Regions from separate parts of the Homo sapiens genome. Here region 1 is linked to region 2. The links come from fine-mapping of genetic effects on gene expression. A gene starts in region 2. The other region holds a variant in brackets. All regions are shown on one strand. Distances are between the middles of the regions.

Region 1 (8,000 bases), 41 kb before region 2:
ATGGGGTCTGACATTCATCAAAGAATCACAGAAAAAAGCATCTCCACCCTCCCCCTTGCTTCAGGTGAAATGGGGAGCAGGTCAGGGAATGGCCCCGAGGAAATGGCCATTGGTCTGAGAGCTGATGGATGGGTAGACAAGGAGCAAGAGAAGCGGCTTTCCTGGCAACAGCAAAGCACGTGCAAAGGCCCCGTGGTGGGAGGAGGCAGCGTGTTAGGGGAACTAAAGGAAGTCTACTGTCGGTGGCTAGAGCAGAGAGCACGAGAGGCCAGTGCTATACGGATCTTTTTAGTTGCCAGTGACAGAAAACCCAACCCAAACTGGTTAAGCAAAGAGAGAACTCGTTGGCTTATATACAGGACTGGAGAATCCCAAGGTGGTCGGTGTGTGTATTAATCACATTTTTATTGTCTGCATCTTATGAAATTTTGACATCTTATTTCTTTTTGAGACAGAGTTTCGGTCTGTCACCCAGGCCGGAGTGCAGTGGCCCGATCTCAGCTCACTACACCCTCTGCCTCCCAGGTTCAAGTGATTCTCCTGCCTCAGCCTCCCAAATAGCTGGGATTACAGGCTCCCACCACCATGCCTGGCTAATTTTTTGCATTTTTATTAGAGGCGGGGTTTCACCGTGTTGGTCAGGCTGGTCTCAAACTCCTGACCTCAGGTGATCCACCTGCCTCAGCCTCCCAAAGTGTTGGGATTACAGGCGTGAGCCAATGCGCCCAGCCCAATTTTGACATCTTAAAAAAATAAAATAAAAAAACCTTATGGGCCAGGAAGAGCCGGCCTTTCCCAGGGCTAGGCAATTCTTTGAGATAGCAAAAGGCTCATCTGGGGGCATGCATATGCAAACCAGCCGACCCTCAACCACTCCCCTTTACCCAACTCTCACACCAAGCCAGTATTTCCCCTGCCCTAAATCACCCAGGGTCAGGTACCAGACAACTGAAGACAGCCTATAGCCCAGAGCCCACATGACAGCTGCAGAGAGGCCCCATCGGGACCCAGATGTGCATGGAGATCTTGTCTGTGCAGGGGACCTCGTTGGTAAGGGGTGGCACGAGGAAACGGTGTAATTGAGGAGGTGAAGTCAGTGGGGCTGGGATGGAAGGGGAAGGTTGGCCCTAGGGCTGGGCCGGGCCACCCTGCATGTAAGTTGTGGATGGAAAGAAGCCACAGGGGAGAGAAACCTGAAGCTCCTCGTGGCTGCAGGAAAGCATTTGGTGTGTGCTTCAGAATTCAGCCATGGGCTCGCCTGTGCCTGACATTTGGCTCCCACCCCTCCTCATGGCCCCTCTTTCTGCTCAGGGTTGGGAGTGCAGTGTTCAGAGCACAGGCAGGTGCTTCTGGATTTCAGTGTTGTAACTTCCAGGCATCTACCTGCTCCAGCTGAGATTGTCCCCTGCAGTCCTTTGGATCTCCCCAGGTGGGATCCAAGTTCCAGTTGGGCTGGGCTGGTGGCAGCCTGGCATACCAGAGGCAGGTGAGACCTGCTGCCTGGGGTCTCTGCCCCTTGCTGGTGTCCCCTGTGGGCAGCTCAGCTCTCTAAATCCCTGTGGCAGCCTGGGGCCCACATTCTATCTCCTCCTTGTCCTGACCCAACTCCTCTGGGTTGGCCACCCTGGTACCCATGGGAAGCATCCCTTGGGTACTCTCTGCCACCAAGCTAGGGTACTTGGGTCTCTGGGAAGTGGCCCTGGGACCCAGCAGTCTAGATGCCTGACTCTCTCATTGTCTTCCACAGCTTGGCACCAGGTAAGACTCTGCTAGACCAGCAGGCTTTCGAGGGACCCTTCTCCTGGGCAACAGGCCCTTCAGCTCTGGAATGTTCTGCCTGAGCGTCCCAGGGTGTCTGCAAGGCAGCCTGAGTGTTTGTGCTGGCAGAGCCCAGGGGTGGAGCAGCTCTGTCTGCAGCAACCGTGGGTGCCCAAGAGCAGCCTGCTTTGGGGACAGTGGGAGGGGCACACCCGGGACACACTGATTCTGAGGACATGTGCTAACCTAGCGTCTGCATAACTGGGGCAAATTCTATTCTCAACTCTGGAACAGCTTGCTGCTTGCACTTGGGCCTAAAATCACAGCCATCTTCTCAGCATGGAAACCTCCTCCCACCCTTCCAGAATCCGCTCACACGCCCACTCCTCTCAGGAGCTGTCCTTGACCTTCTCAGGTCATTAGCTGTTCCCTCGTGTCCTCATGTCACCTCTGTACAAGCATGCCTCCCCACCACACATGCAAATACGCACACGGGCACATATGCATCCAAGCACACGCGTACACACACGAGCACACGCACATCCCTCCCTCCTGGACAGGACAGCTCATCTCGCTGTAAATATATGTTATGACAAATCATACGTGTCCATTATTTTACAATTCAAACAACGCAGAAATGCATGAGAGGAAACGCCTGCAGCCACATCCCTCTCCCCTCCCCTCCTTCCTCCCTTCCTGGTAAGCACTCACCCAGATTTTTGCTTGTTTAAGCAAATGAAACCATATTCTAAACATTGTTCTGTAACTTGATAAATGTCTAATAACCTGTCACAACACCTTTCCATCCTTGGCTCATTGTGACAATTCACAGAATCTGGGTTTGGGCCAGAATTGGTCAAGCCACTCCCCTCTTCCACAAACATTTAGGTCACTTAAGTCTTTTCAGATTTTTTTTTATTGCTATACAAATAGGTGCTTTGACAAACACACCACCTCAAACCTCCCTTAAGCGGGGAGCTGAATTTCCCATGACTTTTGTTGTCCTTCCTACCCCAGAGCCTGGCCAGGCTCTCCGTGTGTCTTGTTTGATGCGTTTAGACGAGATGATTTCAGAAGGCAGTGGGAGGCACATTTGTCAAATTGCCTGAGTACTGGGAGAATCAGTGTTTACATTACAGGACTGAGGCCGGGCACGGTGGCTCACACCTGTAATCCCAGCACTTTGGGAGGCCAAGGCGGGTGGATCACAAGGTCGGGAGATTGAGACCATCCTGGCCAACATGGTGAAACCCCGTCTCTACTAAAAATATATAAAAAAAAAGAAAAATTAGCCAGGCATGGTGGCATGCACCTGTAGTCCCAGCTACTCAGGAGGCTGAGGCAGGAGAATCGCTTGAACCCAGGAGGCGGAGGTTGCAGTCAGCTGAGATTATGCTACTGCACTCCAGCCTGGGCAACAGAGCAAGACTCTGTCTCAAAAAATAAAAAAATTAAGAAGTTTAAGACCACTCTGGGCAACAACATGGCAAAACCCCATCTCTACAAAAAAATACATCACCAAGCTGGGCTTGGTGATGCATGCTCGTAATCCCAGCTACTTGGGAGACTGAGGCGGGAGGATCAATTGGGCCCGGGAGGCAGAGGCTGCAGTCAGCCGAGATTGAACCACTGCACTCCAGCCTGGGTGACAGAGTGAGACCTTGTCTCAAAAAAATTACAGGACTGAGTGAACAGTCAGGAAGTTGGGAAAGGTTACCCTCTTGGCATC[G/A]TGTCGGGGGGTTGGAAGGATGATGAGGGAATGAAACCCAGGCAGGTTGACTGAGAAGAAGCTGCTTTGGGAAGGACGACAGATGTGGGAGTGGGGAGAGAAGTGGCCATGTCATCCTAGAGGTCACACGATGTCATTTAAAAGGTAAGCAGGGCCGGGCGCGGTGGCTCACGCCTATAATCCCAGCACTTTGGGAGGCCGAGGCGGGTGGATCATGAGTTCAGGAGATCCAGACCATCCTGGCTAACACGGTTAAACCCAGTCTCTACTAAAAAAAAATAAAAAAATTAGCCGGGTGTGGTGGCGGGTGCCTGTAATCCCAGCTACTCGGGACGCTGAGGCAGGAGAATGGCTTGAACCCAGGAGGCGGAGGTTGCAGTGAGCCAAGATCGCGCCACTGCACTCCAGCCTGGGCGACAGAGTGAGATTCCGTCTCAAAAAAAAAAAAAGAAAAAAAGAAAAGGTAAACGGCGAAGCCTTGCCGAGTTAGGGCGGCAACACCAAATGGGGAAAGCAATGGATGACCCTGTGTACGGCCAGAAGAGGCCAGGACTGACCTTGTAGTTCATCCTGTCCTTGGCCAGCCGAGGGATGAGCCTGGCTACGTTGTAGATGTCGTTGACCAGGCCCTCGATCAGTGCCAGGAAGCCGCGATCTGAGCCCACCTCCAGGGTCGGGTTGAAGGTCAGCCCATCCTCGTCCAGCTCCATGCGGATCTCAAACAGGGGAGCGATACTCTCCTGAAAGAGGGGTGGGGTTGGCAGTGGTCAACACCTCTGTCCTCCATCGGATGATTCTCAGTGCCCTGATCATCCACTCCGTACCATCAATGTGTCACTGCCTTCCACTTATCTGGGAAGCTTCTGAGAGCTCGTGTCTCAGCGCACCCCGCTCCTTGAGCAATCGCTACAGAGCCAAATGTACAGCCACAAGGCCAAAAGCAGGCAGGGGCAGGTTGGGGCAAGGGGAGGGGCAGGATCAGGTAGAACTCAGACCTCGGTTCAAAGCCCACACCTGCTACTTGCCAGCTCTGAGGCCTTGGGGAGTCACTTAACTCCCAGTTTCCCCAAATATATAAAATGAGGCTAAATATTTTATAGAATGGAGACATTGTTGGCTAGGCGCAGTGGCTCATGCCTGTAATCCCAGCACTTTGGGAGGCCAAGGCGGGTGGATCACCTGAGGTCAGGAGTTTGAGACCAGCCTGGCCCACATGGCGAAGCCCCGTCTCTACTAAAAATACAAAATAATTAGCTGGGCCTGGTGGTGGGTGTCTGGAACCCCAGCTACTCGGGAGGCTGAGGCAGGAAATCGCTTGAACCCAAGAGGCGGAGGTTGCAATGAGCTGAGATTGTGCCATTGCACTCCAGCCTGGGCAAGAGCAAAACTCTGTCTCCAAAAAAAAAAAAAAAAAAAAAAAAAGAATGGAGACATTGTTTCCATTGTTCTGGGTTACTACAGGGGCTAAATGAATCACTGACACACAAAGCAGGTACTGCAGGGGCTGGCCAAGCCTGCCTGTCCCTCTCCCTTGGAAGTCCCCGTTTACAGAGTTCTGGAGGCCCCTGTGAGGCTGCAGGGCTGCAGGTGCTGCTCTGGTTTACAGTGATGGGATTGAGAACCCAAGTGCTCTTCCTGCCAAACTAACGATTCTCAAAATGTGGGCCAGGATCCACCAGGCTGTGAGATCACACTGTGGCCACTGATCTCCCCCTGAATGAGTCCCCATTGGACCTGTGGGTTATGAGCTTTTGAGCCCCCCAATTTGTCTATGAGCAGGAGGGGGCTGTATCAGTATCTGAGTGAGGTGCTAATTGGGACAAACGGTCAATTGTGTGACCAGACTTCTCTAAAGACTCAGGTCGGCTCCTGCCCCCAGGCTACTCACAAAGTAGGAGGACTCCCTGGAACTCTTTGAGGAGAACCCTTTGTTACTGGGACTTCTTTATGGTTTTTGTTGAGACGCTTTCACTGGGACAGTCTGTAGTGACGAGTACTTTCGTCAACTGAATTTTGGGTCTGTGACTGGTTACCAGCTGGCATCTGAGACCCATATGCCAGACTCAAACACCATCCACCCTCCCTGGTCGGTACAAGGGCACGACACTGCCACGTTCCTTTGTTGTTGGTAGCCTGGGGGAGCCTTTGATCTTGGCCTCCTGGCGGTACTCAAAATCATTTAGAAACCATCTCAACAAAAAAGATGCAGGGCTGGGCACAGTGGTTCACGCCTGTAATCCCAGCACTTTGGGAGGCCGAGGTTGGTCGATCATGAGGTCAGGAATTCAAGACCAGCCTGGCTAAGATGGTGAACCCTTGCCTCTACTAAAAATACAAAAATTAGCCAGGCGTGGTGGCGGGCACCTATAATCCCAGCTACTTGGGAGGCTGAGGTAGAGAACTGCTTGAACCCAGGAGGTGGAGTTTGCAGTGAGCTGAGATCATGCTACTGCACTCCAGCCTGGGCAACAGAGCGGGACTCTGTCTCAAAAAAATAAAAAAATAAAATAAAAAGAAGATACAGGTAGGAAAGGGGCCATTGCCATGGAAAGCATGCCTCCATGGGATTAACCAGCACAACCTCTTTGCTGACTGGTTTACCTTCTACTCAGCCGTATATAATCAAGTAGGTGAGTGGCTGTTGTTGCTGACAGGAGACCCTCCCCCCAATCCACATGAGTAGGGGGCAGTGGTGTCCACTTTCCTTCACCTGGCAGTGAGGCAGGACCAGCCTCTTAGGTCTCTTGAGGTTTTCTGCAGCCAATTTATGTTATGGCAGATTTAAAGTGACCAGTGGTCCTGAGTGCCTGGGACTGAGGGGATTCTGGAATGCAGGACTTCCAGGTTTAAAACCAGGTCAAGTAGATTGCATAAGATATATTTTAATAAGTCTATTTATAAAATGATAGCCTGTTCATCAAGAAACTAGAAACTATAGATTCTAACAGATAAGAATACATATACATAAATATATTACCTTATGTTGATAACTTACATCTATAACCATGTTGTCCATTAGGAAACTCAGAGATTTGCGAATGAACTGGTCAAATTCATCTAAGACCATGTCGTCAATGTAGATGACATAATCCTTCCAGGGCAGGCTCAGTGTGTCTGCCCTGAATAGTTCTGCGTTTTCCTGCAAACAGAAGCGCACAGTTGGGCCTCACTTCACTGGCTGTGCTTGCTCTTTGATCACACTGTTTAGTGCCTCTCTGGACCGCCCGTCCATGTTCACACGCCGGACACACGGGGCTGCTTTGAGCATCTTGCTGGTGCTGGCCGCCTTCCTACTCGAGGCTTTGCACGGCTGCTCCCTCACTTTCTTGCTGGGTCTGGCTTCCAATCTTTTTGATTTCAGCTCAAATGTCCCTTCCTCCCAAAGGAATCCTCCATCTCTAGTTGGGTTTCCTCTAGCAAACTGTTATTTATGCCTACCATGGCTCAGAGGGCCACTCAGAATTATTTTATTTGTCTTTGTCTTTGGTCTGCATGCCCTTTTGATGCCCAAATTCATGAAGGTGAAGGTTGACCATCCTCTCCACCACTGTACCCCCAGCACTCAGCAGTAGGCCTAGCACAGAGCAGGGGCTGGTGGGTGGGTGGGGTGGGTGGATGGACAGATGAATGGGGTGGACGGATAGCTGGATGGATGGATGGGGTTGGTAGATGGGTGAGTGGGTGGATGGATGGATGGATGGATGGATGGGTGGGTGGGTGGGTGGGTATGTGGATGTGTGAGTGGGTGGGTGGATGGGTGGGTGGGTGACTGGGTGGGTGGGTGAGTGGATGGGTGGATGGGTGGGTGGGTGGCCGAGTGGATGGATGGGTACGTGGCTGGATAAGTGGGGTGGGTGAATGAATAGATGAATAGAGTGGGTAGGTGTGTGAGTCCATGGATGGATGAACGGGGTGGGTAGATGTATGAGTAGATGGACAGATGGATGGGTGGATGGGTGGAGAGATGAATGGGGTGGGCAGATGTGTGAGTAGATGGGTGAGTGGGTGGGTGGGTGGGGTGAGTGGATGGGTGGGTGGGGTGGGTGGATGGGTGGGTGGGGTGGGTGGATGAGTGGACAGATGAATGGGGTGGGTAGATGTGTAAGTAGGTGGATGGGTGGGTGGATGGGTGGGTGGATGGGTGGATGGATGGGTGGGTGGGTGGGTGGGTGGGTGGATGGGTGGGTGGGTGGGTGGGTGGGTGGATCGGTGGATGAGTGGATGGGTGGATGGGTGGGTGGCGTGGGTGGGTGAGCGGATGGGTGGGTGAGCAGATGGGTGGGTGGCGTGGGTGGGTGAGCGGATGGGTGGGTGGCGTGGGTGGGTGAGCGGATGGGTGGGTGAGCGGATGGGTGGGTGAGCGGGGTGGGGGGGTGAGCGGGGTGGGGGGGTGAGCGGGGTGGGGGGGTGAGCGGGGTGGGGGGATGAGCAGATGGGTGGGTGAGCGGGGTGGGGGGGTGAGCGGATGGGTGGGTGGGGGGGTGAGCGGATGGGTGGGTGGGGGGGTGAGCAG
Region 2 (10,645 bases):
CTTCCCCACCCAGCGGCAGCCGGAAGCAGCTGGGCCCACACACCTCTCCATGGACTCCAGCGTGCCATCCAGGCTGCCCAGGTGCTCCGGAATAGGCAGCAAGGTTTTGCCTTTGATCTTGCCACTCATCACAAACATTTCATTCTTCAGCCTGTGGACCTGCTTCACGATGTCTTCCGAGACCACCTGGGGCCATCCAGCCATGTTCTCACTTTGGTTTAACAGAGAAGAGAGGACCTAAAAGGAAACACTTCTGTGGTTCCGCCCCCTGTGCCTTCACCAGCTCGGCAACCGCACAGAGCCAGGTCCCCGGGGGGTTCCAAAGACCCGGTGTCTGGAGCCCTGGGAAAACTGGGTCCCGCACAGAGCCAGGTCCCCAGGGGGATTCCAAAGACCTGGTGTCTGGAGCCCTGGGAAAACTGGATCCTTCTTCCAGAAGGAGGTGTGGCCGGTCATGGAGTTTATACCAGCTGCCCTGTCCTGGTGGTACCAAAGCCATCCCCAAGCTCTTGCACCCATAGCACACACTCCTTGCTAAAAGCCTAGGAGGACTGTGATGGGTCAAACTGTGTCCCCCAAATCCATCTGCTGAAGCCCTAACTCCCAGCACCTTAGAATGTGACTATTTGGAGATAGGGTCTTTAAAGAGGTGAGTAAGGGCTGGGGGCGGTAGCTCATACCTGTAAATCCTAGGACTTAGGGAGGCCGAGGCAGGTACATCACCTGAGGTCAAGAGTTTGAGACCAGCCTGGCCAACATGGTGAAACCTCGTCTCTACTGAAAATATAAAAATTAGCCAGGCATGGTGGCACCTGCCTATAATCCCAGCTATTTGGGAGGCTGAGGCAAGAGAATCATTTGAACCTGGGAGGTGGAGGTTGCAGTGAGCTGAGATCACACCATTGCCCTCCAGACTGGACAACAGAGCAAAAATACTGTCAAAAAAAAAAAAAAAGAGGTGAGTAATTAAAATCAGATTACTAGGGTGGGCCCTAGTCTGACAGGTGTCCTTACGAGGAGGGGAGATTAGACATGCACAGAAGGCCGACCACATGAGGACCCAGGGAGAAGATGTCCATCTGCAAGTCAAGGAGAGAGGCCTTGGGGAAAACCAACCCCGCCGACACCTTCAACTTCAACCTCTAGCCTCCAGGACTGTGAGAAAATGTCTGGTGTACAAGCGAAGCACACAGGCCCCTGTACTGCAGATGAGAAGAGTGATGACCAGGAAGGATAAGGCACCCCCATTCTGGAGGTCCGAATCCCCAAAGTGTGTCCCCCCCACCTACACAGCACCTGCCAAGGGGGACAGCAGAGGGACACATAAAATGACACTCCATTTTTTCCCCTTTCTTAAGTCAAAGTCTCAAAATTGGAGAAACCTATCTGCCAGTACTCAGTCCCCACCTTCCCAGGCCATGGGCAGCAACCGTACCCGGCACAGCATGGCAGTCTCAATGCTGTCCAGAGAGAACAAGGGGATGCTCGGGGCTTCTCAGACTTCAAGGGCACGAGCACCACCTGGAGGTCTTGTTAGACAGCAGGTCTGTGGCCGGGCATGATGGCTCACGCCTATAATCCCAACAGTTTGGGAGGTTGAGGCAGGAGGATCGCTTGAGCCCAGGAGTCTTGAGACCAGCCTGGGCAACAGGCTATTTTTTGGTGAGACCTCATCTCTTACCAAAAAATACGAAAATTAGCCAGGTGTGGTGGTGCATGCCTGTGGTCCCAGCTACTCAGGAGGCTGAGGCTGGAGGATTGGTTGAGCTTAGGAGGTTGAGGCTGCAGTGAGCTGTGCTCCCACCACTGCACTCCAGCCTGGGAAGCAGAGTGAGACCCTGTCTCAAAAAAAAAAAAAAATTTAAAAACCAAAAGCAAGCAGGTCTGTCTCAGCAGGTCAGGGTGGACGGGGCCCGAGCGCCTGCATTTCCAATCCCTCCCCGGCTCTGCAGCTGCTGCTGGCCCAGGGACTCCAGGCTGAGCAGCAGGACTCAAGGCCGCTCCCGAGAAGTCGGTCGTGCTCGACACCCCGGATGGCAGCCTGGACGCACTCACCTCCTCCACCACCGCGATCAGCTGGTCCACGGGTGTGGGGCTGATGTCGCCGTAAAGGAGCCGGGCCCTGTAGTTGTCCTTGTTGATGTTCTCGGACTTTGTCTTGATGAAGTAAACCCCTTTGGACTTGAGGGACTGGGGGAAGCCCAGGCAGGGTATGATCATGCCGGCTGCATTGAGCGTCAGCACCAGCACCTGGACGTCGGGCTTTTCAAAGAACTCTGTGAACAGGGCCACGTTCTCCTCGGCGCCTATCAGCTTGCTCCACTTGTCCGGCTTGAACTTCAGGACGATGGAGGCAACTTCCTCCAGATACTCTAGTCTGACGTCCGGGGCCATTGTCATCTTGGCCTTTCCTTACACTGTGTATCTGTTAAGAGTGCAAGAAACAGGTACGAACTGTCTCCCGGGCTCCCCAATTTCCCACCCATCCCTGGCACCGCAGGAAATCTCTGTTTCTACCGGAGCAGGAACAAAACAGTTGGTCGAGAGTGTGCAGTTTTTAGCTGTGGTTGGGTTGGGGTGGGGGTGCTTTAGCAGGTGCTGGCACCTGCCCCGGCCCCGCCATGGGGGGTGCCCCGGGAGTGAGGCTGCCCAAAAGTGGTGTGTGCTTACAATCCTGTGACCATAAAGTTCAGAGGATGGGAAAGATAGAGATGAATGCTGGAGAAAGAGAGAAAAGGAAATGGCCGCAACCAGACAGTGTGAAGGGGATGGGGTAGGAAAAGGCAGAACAAGAGGCTGGGGGGTCAGGTTGAAAGGTCCTGGGAAAGCAATAAAAGACGTCGCAGCCCCAGAGTATGTGTGAAACGCAAGAAGGAAGCAGACCCCACGTGCAGGCCGTGAGGCTCAGCGCTCAGTCTTAGCCGCAGCCGTGGTGCACCTTAACTTTCACTCTGCTCTGCACCCTTTCTCCCTCCAGCCCCCAGCGTGCACCCCTAAAAGAATCGAGCTGCAAATTCCTGACAGACCCCTCACAAGCTGCTCAGATGCTCGGGGGTAGGGTTAACTAGAGAATTGGGGGGAAGGGATCCCCTTAAAGAACACCCTGAAGTCCCAAAGTTTAGGCAAGTGAGGTACTTACAGAATTTAAAGACACACCCAAACAGTCATCAAGAGAAAAGGCATGTCAATATTTTTAAACATCAAAATGAATGCAAACAAATTTATGAACAAAATACCAAAGTTTCAAATAAAGACAGGCTCTGGCAAGAGGCCTGAGGTGGGGGCCTTGGAGGCGAGTTCTGCAAGGGCAGGGTTGAATGCAAAGGGTCGCCTGATGCTGTGTTTTCATCACAATCTGGGAGGTATGCAGCTCCTGAATTTCAAGGGGAACCCTGGGGTATTCAGCTGCTCTGGGGGTCCGTGGGCTGGGGCTGGCCTGCTCCAGACCTGGCAGCTGCTGAAAAGCATCAGGGTGGACAGATGACGTTGGAAGCACTCACAAATTCTGCCTTTTGGTTTGACCCAAGCTATTGCTTTTAAGTTTGTAACAGCCTACAGTTCCCCAAAAGACACGTAATACCACGGAACAGGTTTATTTCACCCTGGCCACTATATATCGGCAAAACAACTATATGATGGGAAGCAGTAGTGGATAGCATTTGGATGCTATTCAAATGGTCTGAGATTTATTCAAGGCTCCAAACATCTCTGAGAGAGGACTTGGGGAATATTTGGCCAGCAAATGGCAGAAACATGGCGGTCCACGAGCAAAGCCACCCGATTCAGGCACATCTGTGAAAGAAAAAGGGGACACCACCAGGCAAGTAGGAGGAGCACCGCGTGGCATTTATGGAGATGACTCGTTCACCAGGTTCCCACAGGGCTTTCAGCATGCTGCTGAATTAATCTCCACCCAGGATCTCCGAGACCCGGGGACGCGTCACGTCGTCATTTCCTAGGGGGATCAGGAACTCAGGGGAGCCCGAGTCCTGGAAGGTTCCTGATTGGAAGTCTCGCCAAGCTGGTCAGGCGACTGGACTGGAGGGAAACATCCTCTGGTTTACTGATTTTGTGGATTTGGGCTTTCACAAAGTCATCTTTTCTTCCAAGAACGGCATGGGGTGGGCTGCCTCCCAAGCCATAACATGTGTGGGCTGAGGGGCCCCTACACCCCGCAAGTTTCTTGCACGATCGGGAGGTCTCATCTCAGGCTCCCACCCAGCCGTTTCCTGGGCTGAAGGCCAGGAGGTCCCAGTTAACAATAGGGTTGTCCCAGGCCATGCTTCCGGAGGGGCAGAGACGGCTTCTCTGGGAGGTGGCCCATGCCCCAGGCCTTCAGGACTCCACAGGAGGAAGCTGGGGCTAGGGGCTTCCAGGAGAAGCCAGGGGGCTGAGGCAAGGCCTTCCCAGGAGCAGGGAAGAGTCTGGAGCCCTGGAAGGGGTCAGGCTGGTACGTGGCAGCCAGCCTCGGGGTCCCAGAGCCATGAACAGCTCCCGGTGGCGAGCAGAGCCACTTCTGGGGTAAGTGGAGGGTCTGCTGTCTGCCAGGGCCTAGGTCCCACCTCCATCCTCTGAAGGCCTCCCTGCTCCCTCCACCTTGGCCTCCGACTCCCCCAGCATGGTTGAAGGCCGCTCACCAGCTGAAGGCAAACAGCTTCTCCCGCAAACTGATGAGCAACTCTTTCCCAAACCAGGAAAGAAAATGGCTCCCTTCCCTCGAGGGGCTCCAACTGCCACATAACTTCTGGGAGTCTCCTCACGGTACCTGGGGCTTCTAGAACCTTCCCCTTGGGACCCAAGTAACCAATGATAGCGCAGCAAATGAGGAACCAACCGTCACCCCACAGTGGAAAGGCTCTTAGATGATCATTTTGAGGGGAGGTTGGAGGGGGGACAGGGTCGCGCTCTGTTACCCAGGCTGGAGTGCAGTGGTACAATCATAACTCACTGCAGCCTCAAACTCCTGGGCTTACGTGATCCCCCCCCCTCAGCCTCCTGAGAAGTTAGGACAACAGACGCACATCACCACACCTGGCTAATTTTTGTACTTTTTGTAGAGATGAGGTCTCACTCTGTTGCCCAGGCTGGTCTCAAACTCCTGGCCTCAAGCAATCCTCCCAAAGTGGAAAGGAAGACATTATCTCTGTTTACAATAAGGTGATCTTGTATGTAGAAAATCCCAAGAAATCCATAAAATTGTAGAGCTAATAGAGGAATTCAGCAAGTTTGCAGTATACAAGATATTTGAAAATTAATTATATTTCTCTGTAATTATATTATGAACAATCTGATGATGAAATTTAGAAAACAATTGTCCCCATAATGAACAATCTGATCATGAAATTTAGAAAACAACTCCCATTTACAACAGCATCAAAATAATTTCGTTTACAATAGCGTCAAAAACAACAAAATACTTAGGAATAAACTTTAAAAAGAAGTGTTAAGACTTGTACACTGAAAACTGCAAAACATCATGGAAATAAAGACAACCTAAATCAATGGAAGGACATGCTGTGTTCATGGGTTAGAAGATTGTTAAGACGGGCCAGGCGTGATGGCTCACGCCTGTAATCCCAGCACTTTGGGAGGCCAAGGCGGGTGGATCACGAGGTCAGGAGATCGAGACCATCCTGGCTAACACGGTGAAACCCCATCTCTACTAAAAATACAAAAAAATTAGCCGGGCGTGGTGGTGGGTGCCTGTAGTTCCAGCTACTCAGGAGGCTGAGGCAGGAGAATGGCATGTACCTGGGAGGCGGAGCTTGCAGTGAGCCGAGATCCCGCCATTGCCCTCCAGCCTGGGAGACAGAGTGAGACTCCGTCTCAAAAAAAAAAAAAAAAGAAGATTGTTAAGATGACGACAGTTCTCCTCAAGTTGATCTGCAGATTCAACACAATCCTTATCAAACTCTCAGCTGCCTTTTTTGTAGAAATGACCCTAGATTTTATAGGGAAGTATGAGGGAACAAAAACCATCCAAACAACTTTGAAAAAGAACAAAGTCTGAAGACACACACTTCCTGATTTCAAAACTCACTACAAAGCTACAGTTATCAAGACAGTGCTACCAGCATAACAATAGACAGAGATCACTAGAATAGAATTGAGGTTCCAGAAATAAATGCATCCATTTATGGACGATTGAGTTAGCAAAGGTGCCAAGACAACTCAATGGGAAAAGAATCACCTTTTCAACAAATGGTATTGGAATAACTGAATACCCACATGCGGAAAAACGAAGCTGGGCCCTTACCTCACGCCATCTACACGAATTAACTCAGCATAGATTAACAGAATGCAAGAGCCAAATGTAAGAGCTAAAACTATAAAACTCTTAGAAGAGCACACAGGAGTTGATCTGACCTCAGATGAGGCAATGATGTCTTACATATGATGCCAAAAGCATAAGTGAGCAAAGGAAAAAAGATAAGTTTAACTTCATCAAAACCAAAAACTTTTATGCTTCAAAAGGCACCCTAAAAAAGGGAAAAGATGACCCATAGAATGGGAGAAAATATTTGCAAATCATATATCTGACAAGGGACTTGTCGTAATACAATAAAACAACCTAATTTTAAGGAGTAAAGGATATAGATATTTCTTCAAGAAAGATACACAAATGACCAGTATGCACATGGAAAGCAGCTTGATATCATTAGCCATTAGGAAAATGCAAATCAAAGTAAAATGAACTTCAATGAGGTCCCTAGAGTAGTCAAATTCATTAAGTAGAATGGAGGTTGCCAAGGGCTAGGGAGGGAGAATAGGAATTTATTTTTTAATGGGGCCGTCAGAGGCATTTGAACCAGAGCCACTCCATTTTGAATGGGGTCTGGGTAAAATAAGGCCCTACTGCATTCCCAGGAGGTGAAGGCATTCTTAGTCACAGGGTGAGACGGGGGTTCAGCACAAGTCATAAAGAGCTTGCTGATAAAACAGGTTGCGGTAAAGAAGCTGGCCAAAGCCCACCAAAACCAAGATGACCTCTGGTGGTCCTCACTGCTACACTCCCACCAGCACCGTAACAGTTTGCAAATGCCATGGCAATGTCAGGAAGTTACCCTAGATGGTCTAAAAAGGGGAGGCATGAATAATCCACCCCTTGTTTAGCATATCCTCAAGAAATAACCATAAAAATGGGCAACCAGCAGCCCTCAGGCTGCTCTGCCTATGGAGTTGCCATTCTTTCATTCCTTTACTTTCTTAATAAACTTGTTTCACTTTACTCTATGGACTCACCCTGAATTTCTTCTTGCACGAGATCCAAGAACCCTCTCTTGGGGTCTGGATCTGGACCCCTTTCTGGTAACAGGGTCAGAGTTTCAATTTGGGATAGTGAAGAAGTTCTAGAGATGGATGGTGGTGGTGTTTTTACAACGATGTAAGTGTACTCAGTGCCACGGAACTGTACACTTAAAATGGCTAAAATGGTAAATGTTATGCTCTGTGTATTTTCCCACACAAAAAAACCCCAATTCATTCCCACTAGAATGGATAAAATTGAGAAGACAGAAAAAAACAAAACAAAACACCAGGCACGGGCAAGGATGTGAAGGAATTGGCACCCTCATCCACGGCTGATATGGTATAAACATTGCAGCCACTTTGGAAAAGTGACAGTTCCCCAAAAGGTTAAACATGGGGCTACCAATTAGCTACCCCCTCCTAGGGGTGCACCAGGGAGAAATCAAAACACACACATATTCGCAGCAGCATTCTTCATAATAAACTAAAAGTAGAGGTGAAGGAAGACCTCTGTCCCGGCTCAGAGGGACATGGGAGGGGTGGCAGGGTCCTGTCCCCGGTGGGCTGAGGGCAGCCACATTGGCAGCAGGGTGCCCGGCAGCATCCCTGCCATGTGAGGATAGGAAGGCCACCCTCGGGCTCTCCAGAAGCTACCAGGGAAGGGCAATGAACGGAACAGACTTTGTACAATCTTAGGGTGTGTCCACCACAGAAGTTGGCACTGTCCCACACCAACATCCAGGAGCAAAATCAGTGCCACTAAACCGTCACTTCAGTTCTGCATATCACCCCAGAGCTCCCAGACACAGGGGTACTCAGCAAGCCCCCACAAATTCCAGCTGTCTGCCACTTGAGCTAGTAACCAGGCCCCTCTGGAGACGTCAGCTTCCTCGGCCACAGTTCTGAGGATGAGTATCCCTGAGCCATGGGGCGTTAGGGGCAAGAAGGGCATTCCTGGTTCCAGAAACACATGGTGCTTATTGCAAAGGAGAGCTGGCCAGCTCATGCCCACATTGGCCTAAGAAGAGTCCTGGCTACCGTTTTCTGAGCGATCACCGGGTGGCAGGTTCTACACTTCATGAGCCTCCTGGAAGGCACAGGAGCTCCATCCTTCTTCAGCTTCTGCCTGTGGCCCTGCCCTCGACCCTGGGATGTCACCTCCTTCCCCCTGGGGAGGTAGCAGCTTCCTGCTGCTGATCTCTGGGTCACCTCCCAGTCCCGCTGGGCTCCTCAGCTCTCCTGTCGTGTGCAACACAGCCTCTCCGGCTTGAGTACCCACGTGGTTCTCCTCCATGTTCTGCTTAGATACTGTCGCAGTTTCTTGTGGCTGCTATCAAAGCACCACAACCTTAGGCGGCTAAGACAACAAAAAGTTCTCTCTCCCGGGGGCTGAGGTCTGAATCAAGGTGTCGGGCAGAGCTGTGCTCCCTCCGCAGCTCTGGGAGACTTCTTGGCCTTTTCCAGCCTTTGGTGGCCGCCATCAAGCAGTCCTCGGCATTCCTGGCCTGTGGCTGCATCCCTCCCATCATTGCCTCTGTCCTCACACAGCCAGCTCTGTGTGTGTTGGGAGCAATCTCCCTTTGTCTCTCTCTTACAAGGACCCCTGGGAGGGCATTTAGGTTCTCCCCACGTAATCCAGGATTACATCATCATCTCCAGATTCTTAATCACATCTGCAAAGGCCCTTTTTCCAAATAGGGTAGCATTCATATGCTGAAGCTTTAACCCCCAACATGGCTGTATCTGAGATGGGGTCCTTAGGAGGTAAAGTCAAATGAGGTCATTAGAGAGGGGCTATAATTCAGTGGGATTTTAAGAAGAGAAAGAGCAGCTGGGAATGGTGGCTCACGCCTGTAATCCCAGCAGTGTGGGAGGCCCAGGTGGGTGGATTACCTGAGGTCAGGAGTTCAAGACCAGCCTGACCAACATGGTAAAACCTCGTCTCTACTAAAAATACAAAAAAAAAAAAAAAAAATAGCTGGGCATGGTGGCAGGTGCCTGTAATCCCAGCTACTAGAGAGGCTGAGGCAGAAGAGTCGCTTGAACCCTGCAGGCAGAGGTTGCAGTGAGCTGAGATCATGCCATTGCACTACAGCTTGGGCCACAGAGCCAGACTCCATCTCAAAAAATAATAACAACAAAAGAGAGATCTCTTTCTCTCTCCACCCTGCGAGGACACAGCAAGAAGTCAGAGTCTATAACCCAGGTGAGGGTCCTCACCAGAACCCAACCATGCTGGTCCCTGATCTCCGACTTCCAGCCTCAAGAACTGTGAGAACATGAATCTCCGCTCTTTAAACCTCCCAGTCTGTGCCAGCACATAGTTCATTTTACCCATCAGCTGGAACAGCCATGGTGCCCAGATTAAGCATTAATTCTGGGTGTGTCTGTGAGGGGGTTTCTGGATGAGCCTGGCATTTGATAGTGAACTTGGTAGATTGCCCTCCCCAGTGGGCAGGCATCCCCTAATTCTTCAAGGTCTTGAATAGAACCAAAAGCAGAAAGAGAAATTCACCCATCTGCTCCTGCCTTTGTGTCTGGGCTGAGACATCTCATCTTCTCTTGCCCTTGGGCTGCTGTTGACACCATCAGCGCCCCTGCTTCCCAGGCCTTCAGACTTGGACTAAACTACACTGTGGGCTTTCCTGGTTCTCCAGTTTGCAGACAGCAGAGTGGGACTTCTCAGCCTTCATAATCACGTGAGCCAATCCTCATGAAACTGCTGTCCCTCTATCTTGCCTATTGGTTCTGCTTCCCTGGAGGGCACTGATACGCGTATATGATATACAGCATGAGCAGTCCAATCCTTTCCTCATCTGTCTCCAACCTCTTCTATCATCTTTCAAACAGCTCAAGTCACTACCATCTTGGAAAAAGCAATCCTGTTCAAGCTCTTCGCCCTCTCCATCTCTACGCCTCTTCACTGCCACATTTCTCTAAAGAATGGCCTGGCCAGGCAGGGTGGCTCACACTTGTAATCCCAGCACTTTGGGAGGCCAAGGCAAGTGGATCACAAGGTCAGGAGTTCGAGACCAGCCTGGCCAATATGGTGAAGCCCTGTCTCTACTAAAAATACAAAAAATTAGCCGGGCATGGTGGCACGCACCTGTAGTCCCAGCTACTCGGGAGGCTGAGGCAGGAGAATCACCTGAATCTGGGAAACAGAGATTACAGTGAGCCGAGATCACACCATTGCACTCCAGCCTGGGTGAGACGCTGTCTCAAAAAGAGAATGGCCTGGAACATATATTTCTACTTTCCCATTCTTTCTCTCCACACCACCACTCCCATGTGGCTTCCTCCCTGCCCACTGCACCAACCCTGGGAAGCCAGAAGAACTGAACTGGAGGGAAGAGATGTAACCTGAATGCCTTAACCCAGAGGCTGCTCATAGCTC

What was found. PIP is the estimated chance that this variant, and not a neighbour inherited with it, causes the effect. A credible set is the group of variants that fine-mapping cannot tell apart.
Region 1: its variant is the best candidate, but not a certain one, in a credible set for the expression of DNAH17 in monocytes after Pam3CSK4 (Quach 2016, PIP 0.67).

What each region holds. Positions count from the first base shown.
Region 1 is chr17:78,533,255-78,541,254 of GRCh38, forward strand. DNAH17 (dynein axonemal heavy chain 17) reads right to left here. Exons shown (of 81, transcript NM_173628.4): 18 at 6,483-6,626; 19 at 4,045-4,227. Among named protein-coding and RNA genes, the nearest start is that of DNAH17, 40 kb to the right of the region's middle. RefSeq lists an enhancer at 1-313. The variant G/A (reference allele first, on the strand shown) is at 3,488.
Region 2 is chr17:78,572,658-78,583,302 of GRCh38, forward strand. DNAH17 (dynein axonemal heavy chain 17) reads right to left here and starts at 4,739. Exons shown (of 81, transcript NM_173628.4): 1 at 4,638-4,739; 2 at 2,056-2,425; 3 at 44-237. The coding sequence starts at 2,400. RefSeq lists an enhancer at 8,140-8,641.